2 linked regions of the Homo sapiens genome follow. The protein of the gene in region 1 binds, or shares a complex with, the protein of each later gene. Links are inferred from orthologs where the notes say so. Each region holds a gene or a part of one and is shown on either strand. Other genes may lie near its edges. The genes, in order: PDGFRB and PTPN11.

What was found.
Region 2: the proteins of PDGFRB (region 1) and PTPN11 are in contact, whole or in part, in a crystal structure (PDB 1AYA), measured with the Mus musculus proteins. The link is inferred for Homo sapiens from one-to-one orthologs. Residues at the interface, in NP_032835.2 of Mus musculus: Ser1005, Val1006, Leu1007, Tyr1008, Thr1009, Ala1010, Val1011, Gln1012, Pro1013; in NP_001103462.1 of Mus musculus: Gly13, Val14, Glu17, Arg32, Pro33, Ser34, Lys35, Ser36, Thr42, Thr52, His53, Ile54, Lys55, Leu65, Gly68, Gln87, Leu88, Lys89, Glu90, Lys91, Gly93, Ile96.

The regions. Positions count from the first base shown.
Region 1 is NC_000005.10:150,152,094-150,161,267, reverse strand, and holds the start of PDGFRB (platelet-derived growth factor receptor beta isoform 1 precursor), read left to right. Parts: upstream 1-5,422; 5' UTR 5,423-5,871; intron 5,872-7,310; exon of another isoform or gene 7,311-8,929; intron 8,930-9,174. UniProt on the Homo sapiens protein: Tyrosine-protein kinase that acts as a cell-surface receptor for homodimeric PDGFB and PDGFD and for heterodimers formed by PDGFA and PDGFB, and plays an essential role in the regulation of embryonic development, cell proliferation, survival, differentiation, chemotaxis and migration.
Region 2 is NC_000012.12:112,448,648-112,457,718, forward strand, and holds part of PTPN11 (tyrosine-protein phosphatase non-receptor type 11), read left to right. Parts: intron 1-1,670; coding exon 1,671-1,865; intron 1,866-4,547; coding exon 4,548-4,740; intron 4,741-5,916; coding exon 5,917-6,033; intron 6,034-7,302; coding exon 7,303-7,416; intron 7,417-9,071. UniProt on the Homo sapiens protein: Acts downstream of various receptor and cytoplasmic protein tyrosine kinases to participate in the signal transduction from the cell surface to the nucleus. Positively regulates MAPK signal transduction pathway. Dephosphorylates GAB1, ARHGAP35 and EGFR.

The sequences.
Region 1 (9,174 bases):
CTCAGGATAAAAGTCAGACTCCCTCGAGCCCACAAAGCCCTGATGCCTGGCCACTGACCACCTCTCCAATCTTCCATCCCACTGCCGGCTCTCTGCCTCAACCATTCTTTTCTCTTTGTTCGAACCCATCAAGATCTCTCTGGCCTCCAAGCTTTTGCAGATGCTTTTCCCCCTGCCTCGAACACTGTTCCTACTCCTGAATGTGTGTGGCCTCACAGGCCTGCTTCCTCCCCACAGAAGCCCTATTGTACCTGAACAAGAACTCCCATCCACCCAGCTCATTATTCTCTTTGTCTCTTTCATCACACTCATCACAATTTGATATTATTAATTTGTGGTTTCCTCGGTGTTTGCTTGTGAACTCTGTGAGGACAGGAGGACAGGGCACATAGTAGGTCCTCAATTAACTTCTATCGCATGGATGGATGGTTGGAGGAACAGTTATCTTAGTGATAACTGGGTGTTAGATGGAGAGGCCCCACCCTAGGCCTGCTGTGTGCCCTCAAAAAAGTTCTGGTGCTCTCCAGACCTTAGGAGCCAGTGTATTCAGTGAGGGTGAGGGCCCTGCTCTTCTGGGGATCTATGAGCCATCTGCGTGTACCAGATGGACACACTCAAGTTGCCCACGGTCCTGGGGCTGAGAGGGAGGCCAGCAAGGGGGCAAGGAGAGGCTGAATGGGCAGTGTCTTGAAGCCTTTATCTCCTGGGACCCTGGCAGACCTCGGTGGCTACAGTCTGGCTCAGTAAGACAGTCCTAAGAATCTAGGGAGGGAATGTGGCCCAAGGCCCCTGCTGGTCTTTTGCCCACTCAGAAAGCCACTACACTGAGTGTCCAGGAGGTAGGGGGACAGTTCCCACTCTGTGCCTCTCTGGCTCCCCAGCCACAGGCACAAGGATCTACGTGCTCTGCTCAGGGCATGCATGGGTGGAAGGACACTGAGCTGGGGATCAGGAGTCCTGTATTCTAGCTTCCCTCAGCCCCACCGTGAACCTCAGACAAGTCCCCTCCACTCTCTGGGCCTCAGTGTCCATGCCAGCAGAAGGGACATATCTTAGGGTCCTGACGTCTAAGATGACTGTGTGAGCGCCTGGGGTATGTGTGCTGCTTCCTCATCACCCCCCACCCCCACCCCACAACTCTGCCTGGGGAGCCTGGGAGTGGGGGCAGAGCCAGGAGCGTGGGAGAGCCAGATGTGGTGGCCGCTGCCCTGCCTGAGTGAGGGCTGAGCGGCCTCCTGGGAATTCTCCCACTCAGGCTCCCTTTCCGGTTCCCTCCCCCTGCCCCACTGAGAGCAGCAACTTCCGGCTCTGACAAGCGTGGGTGGGGGAGGGGGGTCTTAGCACGGGGGTCTGTTCAGCCTGGTTCCCTCCTCTGGGGAAGAGCATGGGCTTATGAGTCTAGACAGAAAGCCTCGGTTCCAGTCCCAGTCTGTGGCTGACACATCACAAGGCCTTGCACAAGTTCCTTTCCATCACTGGCCTCAGTCATACCGGCTGTGTAATGAGCATGTTGGTGAGCTTCCCTCCAGCCCTGATGGTGGACTTCTATGACAGCAGCTCTTGGTAACACCTGAGGATCAGTCACCTTTTTTTTTTTTTTTGAGATGGAGTTTCACTCTTGTTGCCCAGACTGGAGTGCAATGGCGCCATCTCAGCTCACCACAACGTCTGCCTCCCGGGTTCAAGCAATTCTCTGGCCTCAGCCTCCCGAGTAGCTGGGATTACAGGCATGCACCACCACACCCAGCTAATTTTGTATTTTTAGTGGAGACTGGGTTTCTCCATGTTGGCCAGGCTGGTCTCAAACTCCTGACCTCAGGTGATCCACCCACCTTGGCCTCCCAAAGTGCTGGGATTATAGACGTGAGCCACCGCGCCCAGCTGGATCAGTCACCTTTTGTGGCACTTTCTTGTTTTGCTCGAGGCTTGACAAAATGCCTGTGGGCATGGCTTATTCAGGTCTCTCCACAACCCTGTGAGGTAGGCACATGTGTCCCCATTTCACAGTTGAAGGTACTGAGGCTCAGAGAGCTCAGGTCATATCATCTCCCAGCGTCACATGGCTGGGAAGTGGTGGAGCTGGGTTGGAGCTGCCAACATCAGAGTCCAGACATTTAACTCTTGAGTGTGCCACCGTGCTGTGGGGGAAGGCAGTGTGGAACCCTAAGGCCCAGAGCCCCCCTCTCCCACTGTACCCCATCCCAGTCCACTTCAGGCAGGGCTCCCCACATTCCATGCTCTGCCCACCTACTCTCAGCCCAGGCTTCCCCAAGACAGCATTGTCCAAGGCTGGACTGGGTTCCCAGTATCTGTGTAGGTGTGAGGATGTTCATAGCTTGTCCTGTCCACAGTGGGGCTGGGGGCCATGCTGACCACCCCAGGGTGATGGTGCTGCACTGCCCATGTGCCCCGTCCATTGCCGCTGAAGGCAGAGTGCACAAGGGGAATCCAAGACCCAGAAAAGGGAGGCTCCGCCCAGGAAGACACAGTGATGGAATGCTGCTCGAATGAGGAAACTCACTATTTCAGTAATAGTGTACACTTAGTACACTTCGAGGCAATGTACTAAGTCCTTTGTACAAACCGAAGAGTCTTATGAATCAGTCTTTGACTTGTCTCCATTTTCCAGAGGAGGAAACCAAGGCCAGGAGTTTAAGTGACTTGCCTAAGCTCATGTAGCTTGAAACTGGAGCAGCTGGGATTCGAACCCAGCTCTATCTCTAGCTCTCCAACCTCCTCTGTCAATCATGACAATTTTGCCCCTTGGTGAGTGCCCTGGGTTGCTCCCTGTAGCTCTGCACCTCCCACCCATATCTCAGTTGAGAGGAGGAGTGACAGTCCTGGTGCCCACCAAGGGTTAATGGCAGTAGGGGCTAAGTAATTCCAGATGGGCCTCAGGACGGCTGGGCTGGCCGGAAACTGGAGGCCGCCAGCTTCCCAGGGGAGCCACCGCCAACTGCCCCTCCCCTTTGTGCTGCATCTCTGGCCCCAGCTGTACCCCTGCCCTAGGGCCCACCAGCCTCCTCTCCCTTGCTAGAGTCCAGCTCTAAGGGAAATTGCAGACGGACCATCCCAAGGGCCTTGTAGCACAGTGAGTCCACAACTGTTATGTACAAATAGGGAAACCGAGGCTCAGGCAGGGCAAGGGACTTATTCAAGTTCTCCTGATAAGTCTGTGGCTGGGTCTTCTGACTCCCAGACTAGCTTCTTTGGGGACTAGGGGGTTGGTGTGTCTCGTGGCCTCCCCCAGGCTGGCCTGGCTGCAGAGGGTCAGCCAAGGATTCAGAGGTGAATGGCCCAGGCAGATGCTAGGAGGGGAGTCGTAAATTTCTGACGGAATCTTTGGGCACAAGAAATCCCTGTGCAAGCCTGACCTTGTGGCCTGTGGGATCTTTTCACATTCCCCTATTTCCCTGTTGCCACAAAGACCTGGCCAGGCCCCCTCTCTCGGGGTACTCTTATGGTCCCCAACCCGTGGCTGGGAACCAGTCTGAGAACACTTCTCCTTCTATGTGGTCCAGCCCAGATGCTCTGCTGGGCAATCCCGATTGGGACTAGACCAAGAAATGCAAGATAGTTGACTGTGGTGGGCATGGAATCCCAGCTCACGCAAATCCTCTGCTCTGTGAACAGGGGTCTGGGGGAAGCTGAGGAGGAAAGACTTAGCGGCGCAGAGGGAAGGAGGGCAGAGCCAGCCTCTACCTGTGTCACCTGGGACAGCTTTCTTCACCCTCTGGAATTCAGTTGCCCTGTGGGTGCAGTAGTGGGAGCAGGGGTGGTAAGCCCACTCTATATGCCCTTCTAAAATAATGCCCTTTGCCATCTGAGGGCTAGGAGTCTGTAACTGGAGATGTCTTCTGATCTGAGAAGCTGAGGGTGGAAGAAGAGACCCAGCTGGGGGAACTGGAGGAGTCTTGGCAGACCCTGGTAGGAAAGGAGAGCCAGAGAATGGAAATGGAACAAAACGGATACTTGAAAGTATCTTGTTGAGGCTGGGTGCGGTGGCTCAAGCCTGTAATCCCAGCACTTTGGGAGGCTGAGGTGGGTGGATCATGAAGTCAGGGGTTTGAGACCAGCCTGGCCAACATAGTGAAACCCGGTCTCTACAAAAAATACAAAAATAGCCAGGTGTGGTGGTGTGCGCCTGTAATCCCAGCTACTTGGGAGTCTGAGGCAGGAGAGTCACTTGAACCTGGGAGGCGGAGGTTGCAGTGAGCCTAGACTGCGCCATTGCACTCCAGCCTGGGAGACAGAGCAAGACTCCATCTCAAAAAAAAAAAAAAAAAAAAAAAGAAAGTATCTTGTTGAGTGACTGAATGAAAGAGCCACAGGGGGAACCTAGGAAGAAAGCAGGGCAGGGGGTTCATCTACACTGGAATAGGGGTCTCGGGTGGGGGTCAGATGACTTGTGTCTCTTCCATCATGTGTCTCATGAGACCTAGTTCTGCCCCAGCTCTGCCATTGCTGCGTAAGCTTGGGAAGCTTATTTTGCTCCTCTGGGCCTCAGTGTCCCCATCTATAAAATGGGGCAAATAATCCTCTCCTTGCACCCCAGGGGCTTTGAGACGTGAAAAGGAATGTATCTGTCAATATCCAGAGATATCCAATCTGTGCTGGATGACCTTGACCAAATCACATTCCCTCTCTGTGCCAATTCACCCCTGGGCCTTGGTTTGTCCTTCTGAAAAACGGCTGATCATCTTGGAGGATCTTTCCATCTCCTCCATGTCACCTCTTCTCAGCAGTGCTCTCTGATTCTCTCAGGCTTCCGTTAGGGGTCCTTCTAAATGCACTCTCAGCCTCCTGTCTGCCGACCGGGCACCTGCTTGCCCAATGAATATCTTGCTCACTAGCCTGGTGCTTCTGAGGTCAGGACCACGTCTTGCTACTGTCCCCTGCACCCAGTACAGTGTTAGAATGTAGTAAATGCTCAGTATGCTTGTTCAATGAATGAAGGTTGACTGAATCAACCACAGAGATGATCAGAGTCTCCTTTACAGATGGGGAAACTGAGGCACTGAGAAATGATCTCCCTGGGTGCCATGGCAAGGGGAGGCCGCCACCCGACATGGGCATCGGGAAAGTGGGGCCGAGGCCACTCTTTGACAAAAGTGACTCAGCAGCTGGCGGCTGGCGTGGGCTGTGGAATTTCTAAGCATCCCCTCACATCCTGAGCGAACGGGCGATGGGAGGGAGTAAGCAGAGTGAAAAGAAGAAAAACAAGAAACTTGGGGGAAAAGAAAGAGAGAGGGGGAAAAAAACTGAAATTGAAAACAGACGCACGCGTCCACCCTCCCTGCCCCGCCGCCCCCCCTTCTCCCAGCTGGGCCAATCAGAAGCCACCCTGCAGCCTTTCCCCCAAAGTGGCGGGGGAAGTGGGGGGGCATGGAAGCCCATAGTGGTGTGAGCTCCTGAGGCTGCCAGCAGCCAGCAGTGACTGCCCGCCCTATCTGGGACCCAGGATCGCTCTGTGAGCAACTTGGAGCCAGAGAGGAGATCAACAAGGAGGAGGAGAGAGCCGGCCCCTCAGCCCTGCTGCCCAGCAGCAGCCTGTGCTCGCCCTGCCCAACGCAGACAGCCAGACCCAGGGCGGCCCCTCTGGCGGCTCTGCTCCTCCCGAAGGATGCTTGGGGAGTGAGGCGAAGCTGGGCCGCTCCTCTCCCCTACAGCAGCCCCCTTCCTCCATCCCTCTGTTCTCCTGAGCCTTCAGGAGCCTGCACCAGTCCTGCCTGTCCTTCTACTCAGCTGTTACCCACTCTGGGACCAGCAGTCTTTCTGATAACTGGGAGAGGGCAGTAAGGAGGACTTCCTGGAGGGGGTGACTGTCCAGAGCCTGGAACTGTGCCCACACCAGAAGCCATCAGCAGCAAGGTAAGTGCTGGAAAAAGTGGGAACCCCAGCCCCATGCCCTGTCCCTTTGCCCTAACCTGCATCTCTTCGAGTAGGTAAAAAAAAAAAAAAAAAAAAAAAGGGAAGATATTTTTAACAAAACAAGATGAGAGGAGGCTGGGAGACTGTGGGTGATGTCAGGGATGGAGGAGCCAGTTTTCTCCTTTCCCCTGCTCTGGGGTGAGTGGCCTCCACCTCATCATCCCTGCTGCTCCTGCCTTCATCAAACAATCCTCAGGGGTTTCTGGGTGCTGACTGGGGGCCTCCAAAGCACAGCACAGTCAATGGGGAGTGGGGAGAGCTGGGAAGAGCGGGAGAGGGGAATTGGGAGAAGGTAGGCAGGGTACACAGAAAGCAGGGGACTGGGGACCTCAGGACCATAGCCGCTGTTCCTTGGCCCAAGCCTTGTTTCTAAGAATCAGTCTGGCTTTAGGCCAGTCAGCCGCCAGGCAACCTCTGGGGATTTAAATGGATTTGCAAATTTTCTAGATTCTTAAGATATCCTTCTAAACCCCCAGCAGCTAGAAAAGTTTGAGGGCTAGGAAAGTTCGAGGGTGATGGGCGGCCATGGCAACCCCCTAGCGGTCATGCTGCTGGGTCTGGGGGCTGGGACCTGGCTGTCAGATCTGGGGGCTCCTCTGTGAAGAAGGGGTCAGCCACTGGGCCATTTCCTTTGGTCCCAGGCAGCTGCTCAGGCCTCCTCGTTGTCTCCCTCCTTCTGGACTCTACCCCTTCTCCATGCCATTCTAAAGCATAAATCCAATCACACCACCTCCCTGCCCAGGATCCGCCTATGGCTCCCCAGTGCCTGGAGAAAGTCCCAGCTCCTAACAGAGGCTGCCACTGCTTGACACTTACTGCACGCCGCAACTGTGCTGAGTGCTTTATGAGACTGATCTCATGTAATGCTCACCAGCAACCCCAGAGGCAGTGACTGTTTTTACCTCCGTTTTATACATGAGGAACTTGAGGCTCACGCAGCCACATAACTGTAGCCACACAGCTAGTAAGTGGCACAGCCTGGAGAGGTTGGAATCTCCCCGTGCCCCATTACTCCAAACTTGGGCCTTTTGTTCCCGCCAGTCAGATCCCAGAATTCCCAGAAGGAATGCGCACCATCCTGCTTGTGGGCATTTGCCCTCCCTCTTCCCCCTTTCTGGAATGCCCTTCCTCATCACTTTTCTTTCAGGGATATTCCATACACCACCTCTTCCAGGCAGCCTTCCTAGGTTCTTCCTGTCTTCCAAGTGCTAGCCATGCACTTTGTGCTGAAGCCATGTTACTTGGCCCTCCCCTGTTGGTGATCTGTTTATGTTCTGTTTGTTCATCAGAGATTGTTCAGGCCCCAGCAGTCAGAACTGAGGCCGCACTTTCTGCTGGGGAAAGGTTTAAGGTTTCCCCATCCTGTGCTCTTCCCCCAGTGCCCAGCCCTGGATAGGCAGTGCGGCTGAAAAAATGTCCTGGTGAAAGGGAGGAGGAGCTCACTGAAGACCTTCTGCTCCCAAGTGTGAGACTAGAACCCAGGCCTCCAGCCTTCTCACAGGTGCCCTTCCAGGACATCGTGTGGCTACTCCAGGCAGCATTCCTCCATTGCAAGCAGGGAGGAGTATCTCTGCTTCCCTCTGTGACCTCCCAATTGCACAGAGGCCTCTAGTGACAAGTTCTGAAGTCATGCAGTCCTCCCCTGTCTCCAAGCAGGAGACCCTGAATCCACAGCCTTCAGGGACATACAGTCCCTGAACACCTACCTCATGCAGGCATAGAGCCTGGTACTTCACACACCTTGGAGTCCTCATGGCAAGTTTTTGAAATCAGTGTTATTACCTACTTTTTGTAGATGAGGAAGCTGAGATCTGGAGAGGCTAAGTGACTTTCCCAGGGCCATACGGTGAGTTAAGGTGGTGTTTAGGCTGAAGTCTGCCTGACTCTAAAGGCTTACCTCGTGCTCCCCGGGAAGCTCCCAGTCAGAGGGAAGAATCTCCATCCTCCTGCAGAGCCTGCTCCTGGCTTCAGCACCTTCCCCAGCAGAAAGTGCAGCCTCAGGTCTGACTGCTCCAAGGTCTGCCCGGGCCCTGGCTTGGTCTTGAGAGAGGAAAGAGACCATCTGGTCAGCACCCTCCTCCCAGACAGCAGTTATCAGCAGCCCCCCTCCTCTGCGGGAAGAAGAGCTGGGACTTATAATTGCCCACACATGTGGGGCAGGCAGTGGAAAGCACCGTGGATCCAGAGTCAGGAGACCCAGTGCTTGCCCTGGCTTGATTTAAATCCACCGTGTGGCCAACCTCAGACCCCCCACATCCCATCTCTGGGCTCCTTCCGCAGCTGGGAGGCAGTGAGCGCTGTGGGTAACCAGCACCAGGCTTGGGCATCAGATGACTATGCATTGACCCCGAGTCAGTTTCTGGCTGACTGTGTGACCCCGGGGCAGCACCTTGCCTCTCTGGGCCTCAATCTCCTTCTCTGTGAGCAGCAGGACCGTGTGTGGGCTCCATGAGACAACAGCATTGGCAAGGTGCTTACCACAGTTCCTGCACTTCACAGCTGGACCTCTGGCCACTGGCTGAGAGAACCACTGCTCTCCTGGCCTCCTGCATTGGAACACTTGGCTGTGAAATTAATCTGCAACCTGCAAAAGGCTCTGCCCACAGAAGGGACCTGGACACCATGTATGTTCCAAAGATCCGTGTCCATCCTCCAGGCACAGGCCACAGTCTGACTCTGAGACCAGCTGCCTTCTAGGCTAAAGGAGGGTGCTCTGGGCATTGGCTCAGAACAGGCTGCTGCTGAATGCAGTGGGAAGGGAGAAAGGGATGAAAAGGTCTTCTGAAATGCCCACCCATTTCTTGCATTTGATTCAGAACCCAGTGGGCAGTGGGTTCTTGGAATGGGAATCTTTTTGGTGCCCCCTGTCTTCTGACCCAGAGCGTTAGGAGGGAAGGGAAGGGGTGTTGGGCCCCTTCCCAGGGTCAGGGCTTGTAGCACCTCAGCTGGGAAGCAGTGTGAGCATGATGATATAACAGGAACCAACTCGTTCTTAGCACTTTCTGTGTCTACTTCAATTGTGCTTTACATCTGTTACCTCAAAGTTGCTGCTGTATTCCTCAGCACTTGGAACATGCTGGGCATTCAGGACATTCTTAGTAAATATTTACTGGATTAATTTAACCATCGAGGCTGGGCACGGTGGCTCACACATGTAATCCCAGCACTTTGGGAGGCCGAGGCGGGTGGATCACCCGAGGTCTGGAGTTTGAGACCAGCCTGGCCAACATGGTGAAACCCTGT
Region 2 (9,071 bases), on another chromosome or scaffold:
CTCTCTCATCTTTTTAATCAGCTGGATCGCATTCTATCATGTGAATATTTTATAACTTCTATATACTGTCACCAGCAGGTAGCGATTTAGTTGTGTCTAATATTTTAAAATGATATATAATGCCTCAATGAATATAGTAACCTTTTGCATATATTGTTTTGTGCTTTGGGATAACACTACCTCGTATTGGAAACTGTGTCATTACATGTGTCTTTAAAATTACATGTGTCTTTTTATTTTTATTTTTATTTTTTTTGAGTGGGAGTTTCACTCTTGTTGCCCAGGCTGGAGTGCAGTGGTGAGATCTCGGCCGACTGCAACTTCCGCCTCCCGGGTTCAAGCGATTCTCCTGCCTCAGCCTCCCCAGTAGGTGAGATTACAGGTGCCTGCCACCACGCCCAGCTAATTTTTGTATTTTTAGTAGGGACGGGGTTTCACCATGTTGGCCAGGCTGGTATCGGTCTGCTGACCTCAGGTGATCCTCCCACCTCAGCCTCCCAAAGTGCTGGGATTACAGACGTGAGCCACCATGCCTGGCCATCACTTTTTTTTTTTTCTTAATTGCTGCATAGTGGCCGGGCACAGTGGCTCACGCCTGTAATCCCAGCACTTTGGGAGGCCAAGGCAGGCGGCGGATCATGAGGTCAGGAGACCAATACCATCCTGGCTAACATGGTGAAACCCCGTCTCTACTAAAAATACAAAAAAATTTAGCTGGGCGTCGTGGCGGGCGCCTGTAGTCCCAGCTACTTGGGAGGTTGAGGCAGGAGAATGGTGTGAACCCGGGACGTGGAGCTTGCAGTGAGCCAAGATTGCACCACTGCACTCCAGCCTGGGTGATGGAGTGAGACTCTGTCTCAAAAACAAACAAACAAACAAAAAAATTGCTGCATAGTATTCCATTGTATGAGTAGTAACACAACAATTTTTATAATGCATAGTATTCCATTGTATGAATAGTAATGTAGCACTATTTGTTTATACATTTTTATGATTAAAAAACAAAATGTTTTTCTATTATGAATAAAGTGGCAATGAATATTTTTGTACAAGTGTTTTGGTAGCTATACAGTTATTGTCACTTAATATATGCAATTCGATAGGCCAGTCATTCAAAATAGAAGATATACAAGGTAGGCCGGGCGTGGTGGCTCACGCCTGTAATCTCAGCACTTTGGGAGGCCGAGGTGGGTGGATCACCTGTGGTTAGGAGTTTCAGACCAGCCTGACCAACATGGAGAAACCTCATCTCTACTAAAAATACAAAAGTAGCTGAGCGTGGTGGCGCATTCCTGTAATCCCAGCTTCTTGGGAGGCTGAGGTAGGAGAATCACTTGAACCTGGATTTATAATGTATGTAAATCCACCGCGAAGGTTGCGGTGAACCGAGATCACGTCATTGCACTCCAGCCTGGGCAATAAGAGCGAAACTCCATCTCAAAAAAAAAAAAAAAAGATATGCAAGGTAAAGATACTAATAAAGACCTTTGTGTTGAGTTGGTTGACATGTGGTTATTTCACCCATCGTATTTCTTATAGGGAATAGGTAAATTCGTTCCTTGGGTTTCTTTCAACACTTAGGTAAAATCCGACGTGGAAGATGAGATCTGATTTTACTGGTGTAACTCTTTATTTGTCCCCTTGCCTCCCTTTCCAATGGACTATTTTAGAAGAAATGGAGCTGTCACCCACATCAAGATTCAGAACACTGGTGATTACTATGACCTGTATGGAGGGGAGAAATTTGCCACTTTGGCTGAGTTGGTCCAGTATTACATGGAACATCACGGGCAATTAAAAGAGAAGAATGGAGATGTCATTGAGCTTAAATATCCTCTGAACTGTGCAGATCCTACCTCTGAAAGGTCAGTAACATTTTAGTGACCACAAAGTCTGCTGCTCCCTTGTGCCCTGAGTGTCAGAAATGCATGACGGTCTGTGTATGACTCTCTGACTCCAAAGGCTTGTGACTGTTTTTTGAGCTGTAATCTTTAAAGAATTACTAAAGTGAGACTAATAGCATCAAATTATTTTCAGAGTACCTTTTTCCTGCAAAAGTTTTAATCAGTGTTACTTACACTCATCCTATAGGGGTTGCATACCATTCCTGCATATACTTGGTACGTGTATTAGTTTTAAGACTTATTGAACTTCAGCAGATAATCTTTGAGAGTTATTAGAGGAAAACAAATGATAATGGAGACACCAAAATAGCAGCAGTTTTCTATGGTGGCTCTCGACCAGTTATTCAGCAATGTCACCAACAGATGTCAGTTTAAGCTCAGAAGTGGAAAAGCAGAGAGCTCAGAGGGTCAGCTTTTTCATCAGTTCTTTTAATGTTATCACCACAATTATGTGAGAATGACCTTGCTTAGAGAAAATTATGTTATTTTCGAGATCTTTCCCCCTGTGTTGGAACTAGGCTGATGAAAGCATGGGCTTGACTTATTTATTGATTGTATTCGTTTTGTACATTCCCAATCTCCTCTCTGACTTGGTGCAAATTCAGGATCTCTTAGTTAGTTTGTATATTTTGTGTCTTCAGGTATGATTTTTTCAGCTTATACCTTTATGTCAGTGCTATTATGTGCTGATAATTTGTTTCTCTAGCTACCACCGTAGCTTCAGGCAAAAGGCTGTCAGCCAACTCTGTACAGTTTATTTCTAAATTTTACTGTTTTCAGTTGAGTATGGATGAAGAATAACTCAAAGTTTATTCTTTTGATGATGAGCCCTTAACACCACCTGCCATGATAGTACTTGCTTTCTGACCAAGATCCTGAGGGAAAAAGCCACTTTATTATTAGAACTATGTTAAGATGCTTCCCAAAAAACATGGAGCAGTATTGTCTCAAAGTCTGTCCTTGGATGGCTTTGGATGCCTACATCAGGACTGTCTGATGTGCTGGTTAAAATGCAGATTCCTGGGCCTCATTCAGACTTACATGTATTGATATTGCTGGTTGTGGAGCCTGGGAATTCATATTTTTAGCAAAATCCCTCATTTTTACTCCAAGTCTTATGTGCATTATACAGTTTGAGATGATCACCCAGGATATAGTCCAAAGACACTGGAGGCTGTTGAAGTATAGGTTGTATATATGGAAAAGGTTGGAATGTTTGAATTAATTTATAATGAAGATCCTTTTTAATTGAGTGTTCACATGCCAAGGCAAGGACAAACATTCAAAATGATTTTCTGTCTCTGTTACAACTTTTTCTTTCTTTTTTTTAATTTATTTATTTGAGATGGAGTCTCACTCTGTCACCCAGGCTGGAGTCAAGTGACGCGATCTCGGCTCACTACAACCTCCGCCTCCCAGATTCAAGTAATTCTCTTGCCTCAGCCTCCCGAGTAGCTGGGACTACAGGCATGTGCCACCATGCCCAGTTAATTTTTGTATTTTTAGTAGAGACAGGGTTTTGTCATGTTTGCCAGGCTGGTCTCAAACTCCTGAACTCAGGTGATCCGCCCACCTTGACCTCTCAAAGTGCTGGGATTATAGGCGTGAGCCACCGTGCCTGTCTCTATTACAACTTTTTATTACAACTTCTTTATTTTGACTTTATTTTTACAAATTATTTATTTATTTTTTTTGAGATGGAGTTTCGCTCGTCACCCAGGCTGGAGTGCAATGGTGCGATCTCAGCTCACTGCAACCTCCGCCTCCCAGGTTCAAGTGATTCTCCTGCCTCAGCCTCCTGAGTAGCTGGGATTACAGGCACTTGCCACCACACCCGGCCAATTTTGTATTTTTAGCAGAGACAGGGTTTCACCATGTTGGTCAGGCTGGTCTCGAATTCTTGACCTCAGGTGATCCACCTGCCTCGGCCTCCCAAAGTGTTGGGATTACAGGCATGAGCCACCACGTCCGGCCGACTTTTATTTTTTTTTCTTGAGACAGGGTCTTGCTCTGTCACCCAAGCTGGAGTGCGGTGGCATGATCATAGCGCACTGCAGCCTCGACCTCCTGGACTCAAGTGATCCTCCTGCCTCGGCCTTGTGTATAGCTGGGATTACAGGCAGTTGCCACCATGCCAGGCTAATTTTTAATTGTTTTGTGAAGATGGGGATTTCACTGTGTTGCCCAGACTGGTCTTGAACTCCTGGCCTCAAGTGATCTTCCTGCCTTGGCCTTCCAAAGTGTTGGGATTACAGGCATAAGCCACTATGCATGGCCTGTAACTTCTTTAAATGGCTATAATTAAACAGTTGGTCCTTTTAAGATTGGGCAATGGACGAATGGCAAATTGCATTTTTAAAAGAGGAGGGATTTAAAAAAAAACAGGAAAGATTGGGGCATTTGTCTCTAAAGGACTGTGGACTCATTTAAGAAGTTTAGTGGTCATTCTTACCATCTTTGTGGTTTTTCCTGCCTGCATGGGATGCAGATTTTCTGTCTCAGGTGGGATTGATCAATCCCTTGGAGGAATGTGTCTACTTTTTAATTGTGTTTAGGAGAGCTGACTGTATACAGTAGTTTTGTGAAAGAACAACATGAACCCATAGTAGAGCTAAATTCTTTTTTATTTTTTAAAAACTTTAGGTGGTTTCATGGACATCTCTCTGGGAAAGAAGCAGAGAAATTATTAACTGAAAAAGGAAAACATGGTAGTTTTCTTGTACGAGAGAGCCAGAGCCACCCTGGAGATTTTGTTCTTTCTGTGCGCACTGGTGATGACAAAGGGGAGAGCAATGACGGCAAGTCTAAAGTGACCCATGTTATGATTCGCTGTCAGGTAAATCTCCAGTTGAAAAATGGGTCTGGCAAGATGTTACCTTTGGGTGATTTTTCTGCTGACAGAAGACAGACACCATTACATTCAAAGTCAGATTGTCTTTTATTTATTTATTTATTTATTTATTTATTTGAGACAGGGTCTTGCTCTATCACCTACAGATGGGGTTTCACCACGTTGGGTCTGGTGACCCAAATCTTTGGGTGATTTTTCTGCTGGAAGAGGACAAACACCATTACATTCAAAGTCAGATTTTCTGTTTTTTTTTTTTTTTTGTTTTTGTTTTTTTAATATTCATTTGTTTATTCATTTGAGACTGGGTCTTGCTCTGTCACGCAGGCTGGAGTGCAACCTCCCTGGGCTCAGTTGATCTTCCCTCAGCCTCTTGAGTAGCTGGGACTACAGGTGTGTGCCACCATGCCCAGCTAGTGTTTGTATTTTTTGTGGAGATGGTGTTTTGCCGCATTGCCCAGTGTGGTCTTGAACTAGTGCTCAAGAGGCCTGCCTCCTTCAACCTCTCAAAGTGTTAGGATTACAGATGTGAACTACTGTGCCTGATCCAAAGTCAGATTTTCTTTGCTTACTTAGTCAAGTTCGTCTATGCTTTTATTATACTTAATATATTAGTATAGTTACTGTATTAGTATATTAGCATATTTAATATATTATTATACTTATCATACTTGAGTATATTGAGTATATTTACACTTTTAGTATATTTGTATACACACACCACATTTTTATTATTTATCTTTTTTTTGAGACAGAGTCTCCCTCTGTCTCCCAGGCTGAAGCACAGTTGGCTCACTGCAACCTCTGCCTCTTGGGCTCAAGTGATTCTCGTGCCTCACCCTCCTGAGTAGCAGGGATTACAGGTGTCCACCACCAAGCCTGGCTAATTTTTGTATTTTTAGTGGATATGGGGTTTTACCATGTTGGCCAGGCTGGTCTCGAACTCCTGACCTCAAATGATCTGCCCGCCTTGGCCTCCCAAAGTGCTGGAATTACTGGCGTGAGCCACTGCACCCAGCCTATTATCTGTCTTTTGATGGACATTTAAGTTGTCTCTATATACTAGCTATTGTGAATAATGCTGCAGTGAACATGAGAGTGCTTGAAAACACTAATGTAACATAAAGGTAACAAATAATAAATGTCATGTGTTTATCTTGAAAGGAACTGAAATACGACGTTGGTGGAGGAGAACGGTTTGATTCTTTGACAGATCTTGTGGAACATTATAAGAAGAATCCTATGGTGGAAACATTGGGTACAGTACTACAACTCAAGCAGGTGAGCAGATTGGAAAGCTCAAGCTTTCTCCTTAAAAACTTAAAACAAATCCTAATAGAGAATTTTGCAAACATACAGAGGTAGACAGAATAGTATCATCAGCCTCCATGTACCCATTGCAGCTTCAACTATCAAATCTTTTTTTTTTTTTTTTTTTTTGAGACAGTCTTACTCTGTCACCCAGTCTGGAGTACAGTGTTGCAATCTTGGCTCACTACAACCTCTGCTTCCTGGGTTCAAGCGATTCTCCTGCCTCAGCCTCCTGAGTAGCTGGGACTACAGGTGCCCACCACCATGCCCGGCTAGTTTTTGTGTTTTTAATAGAGATGGGGTTTCACCATGTTGGCCTGGCTGGTCTTGAATTCCCGACCTCAGGTTTTCTGCCCGCCTTGGCCTCCCGAAGTTTTGGGATTACAGGCGTGAGCTACCACGCCCGGCCCTAAATCTTTTCTTATTATGATTCCACTCACTGACTGCCGCTATAGTACTTGGAAACATATTCCAGATTTATATTATTCCCATATTTATCTGTAAAAGGCATTACAGAGGTTCTTTTTTTTTTTTTTTTTTTTTGAGATGGAGTTTTGCTCTGTCGCCCAGGCTGGAGTGCAGTGGCGTGTTCTTGGCTCACTGCAACCTCTGCGTCCCGGGTTCAAGAGCTTCTCCTGCCTCAGCCTCCTGAGTAGCTGGGATTATAGGTGGTGCCACTACACCCAGCTAATTTTTGTATTTTTAGTAGAGATGGGGTTTCACCATGTTAGCCAGGCTGGTCTTGAACTCCTGACCTCAAGTGATCTGCCTGCCTCAGCCTCTCAAAGTGCTGGGATTATAGGCATGAGCCACTGCATCTGGCCTAAGGCTGTACAGAGTTTTAAAGCAAGTTTTCATTATAGATCCACTTCTGGTTACCTTTAGGTAACCTCACTTATTCACTTTGGCATTGTTGCTATTTCAAATTTCACCTTTATGATAGTGGAAAATGATATAATCTCTCTAAATAATGTGGTCTATTCATAAAGAAAAATAGGCTTGAATTTATATCAGCAGAGTAAAGTGTATGTGAAGACTGAAGAAAGATACATTTTCTGGCTGAACAGAAAACACGGTGAAACGATTTGAAAACTTTTATTGTGAATTACAGGGTCCTATGAACCCTCTGTCCGTGCCTTTATGAATATCAACATAGACATGTTTTTTTTTTTTTTTTTGCATTAACACCGTTTTCTGTAATATTTTCTTTATTTTACATCAACTGCTGTACTCGATCAGCCCCTTAACACGACTCGTATAAATGCTGCTGAAATAGAAAGCAGAGTTCGAGAACTAAGCAAATTAGCTGAGACCACAGATAAAGTCAAACAAGGCTTTTGGGAAGAATTTGAGGTAAGTTATTAAAAAACTGTTTTTACGTGAGTTGTTATATCCTATTTTTAGTGGAGGAGAAGTTGCTCTTGTGTTTGGAATTGGACCTGAGAGACTTGAAACTGACGTCCTTTTTTAATTCGGCCATTGATTGACACGGAGCAAGTTGCTGAGAGGGCTTCTTCGAAACAGAAGAGCATTGTGTTCTGAGGGAAGGGAGTTGGCAGTGAGTAGTCAATGGATGTGCTAGCCGCTCCATTTGGCTCTTTTGGTTTGGACTGGTGGCAAAATCTCAGAGAAACAAAAGGATCTAATTTCTTCGAAAGATTTCCAGCATGCACTGGGGTCTTTAGAAACAATCTATAGCCTTAGTGCAGCAAATGAGTATGAGTAAAAGAGAAACACCTTGTGGTGGCTTTTTTTTTTTTTTTTTTGAGACAGGGTCTCGCTCTGTCGCCGAAGCTGGAGTGTAGTGGCGTGATCTCGGTTTACTGCAGCCCCGTCCTCCCTGGGCTCAAGTGATCTTCCCATCTCAGCCTACTGAGTAGCTGGGACTACAGGCACATGCCCCTATGCCTGGCTAATTTTTGTATTTTTGGTAGAGATGAGGTTTTGCAGTGTTGCCCAGGCTGGTCTTGAACTCTTGGGCTCAAGTGATCCTCCTACTTAAGCTTCCCGAGTAGCTGGGACTACAGGCACACGATACCATGCCCATCTAATTTTTGTATTTTTTTGTAGAGATGGGGTTTTGCAGTGTTGCCCAGGCTGGTCTTGAACTCTTGGGCTCAAGTGATCCTCCAGCTTTGACGTGCCAAATGTGGTGGCTTTAATTTCAGAGTTCAAATTGATAACTCTGGTAAGTTAAGTGAACTGATTTCTTTTTTTTTTAAATTATTTTTGTTGATTATACTTTAAGTTCTGGGATATATGTGCAGAACGTGCAGGTTTGTACATAGGTATACATGTGCCATCATGGTTTGCTGCACACATTAACCCATCATTTAGGTTTTAAGTCCTGCATGCATTAGGTGTTTGTCCTAATGCTCTCCCTCCCCTTTAATGCATCAGTGAAAAAGTGATGATAGGCTGGGCGTGGTGGCTCACTCCTGTAATCTCAGCACTTTGAGAGGGTGAGGCAGGTGGACCACTTGAATCCAGGAGTTTGCCCCCATCCCCAGACAGTGTGTGTGATGTTCCCCTCCCTGTGTCCATGTGTTCTCATTGTTTGGTTTTCTGTTCCTGTGTTAGTTTGCTGAGAATGATGGTTTCCAGCTTCATCCATGACCCTGCAAAGGACATGAACTCATTCTTTTTTTATGGCTGCATAGTATTCCATGGTGTGTATGTGCCACATTTTCTTTATCCGGTCTATCATTGATGGGCATTTGGGTTGGTTCCAAGTCTTTGCTATTGTAAATAGTGCTGCAATAAACATATGTGTGCATATGTCTTTATAGTAGAATGTTTTATAATCCTTTGGGTATATACCCAGTAATGGGATTGCTGGGTCAAATGGTATTTCTGGTTCTAGATCCTTGAGGAGTCACCACACTGTCTTCCACAATGGTTCAACTAATTTACACTCCCACCAACAGTGTAAAAGCATTCCTATTTCTCCACATCTTCTCCAGCATCTGTTGTTTCCTGACTTTAAGTGAACTGATCTCTTTCCTGAA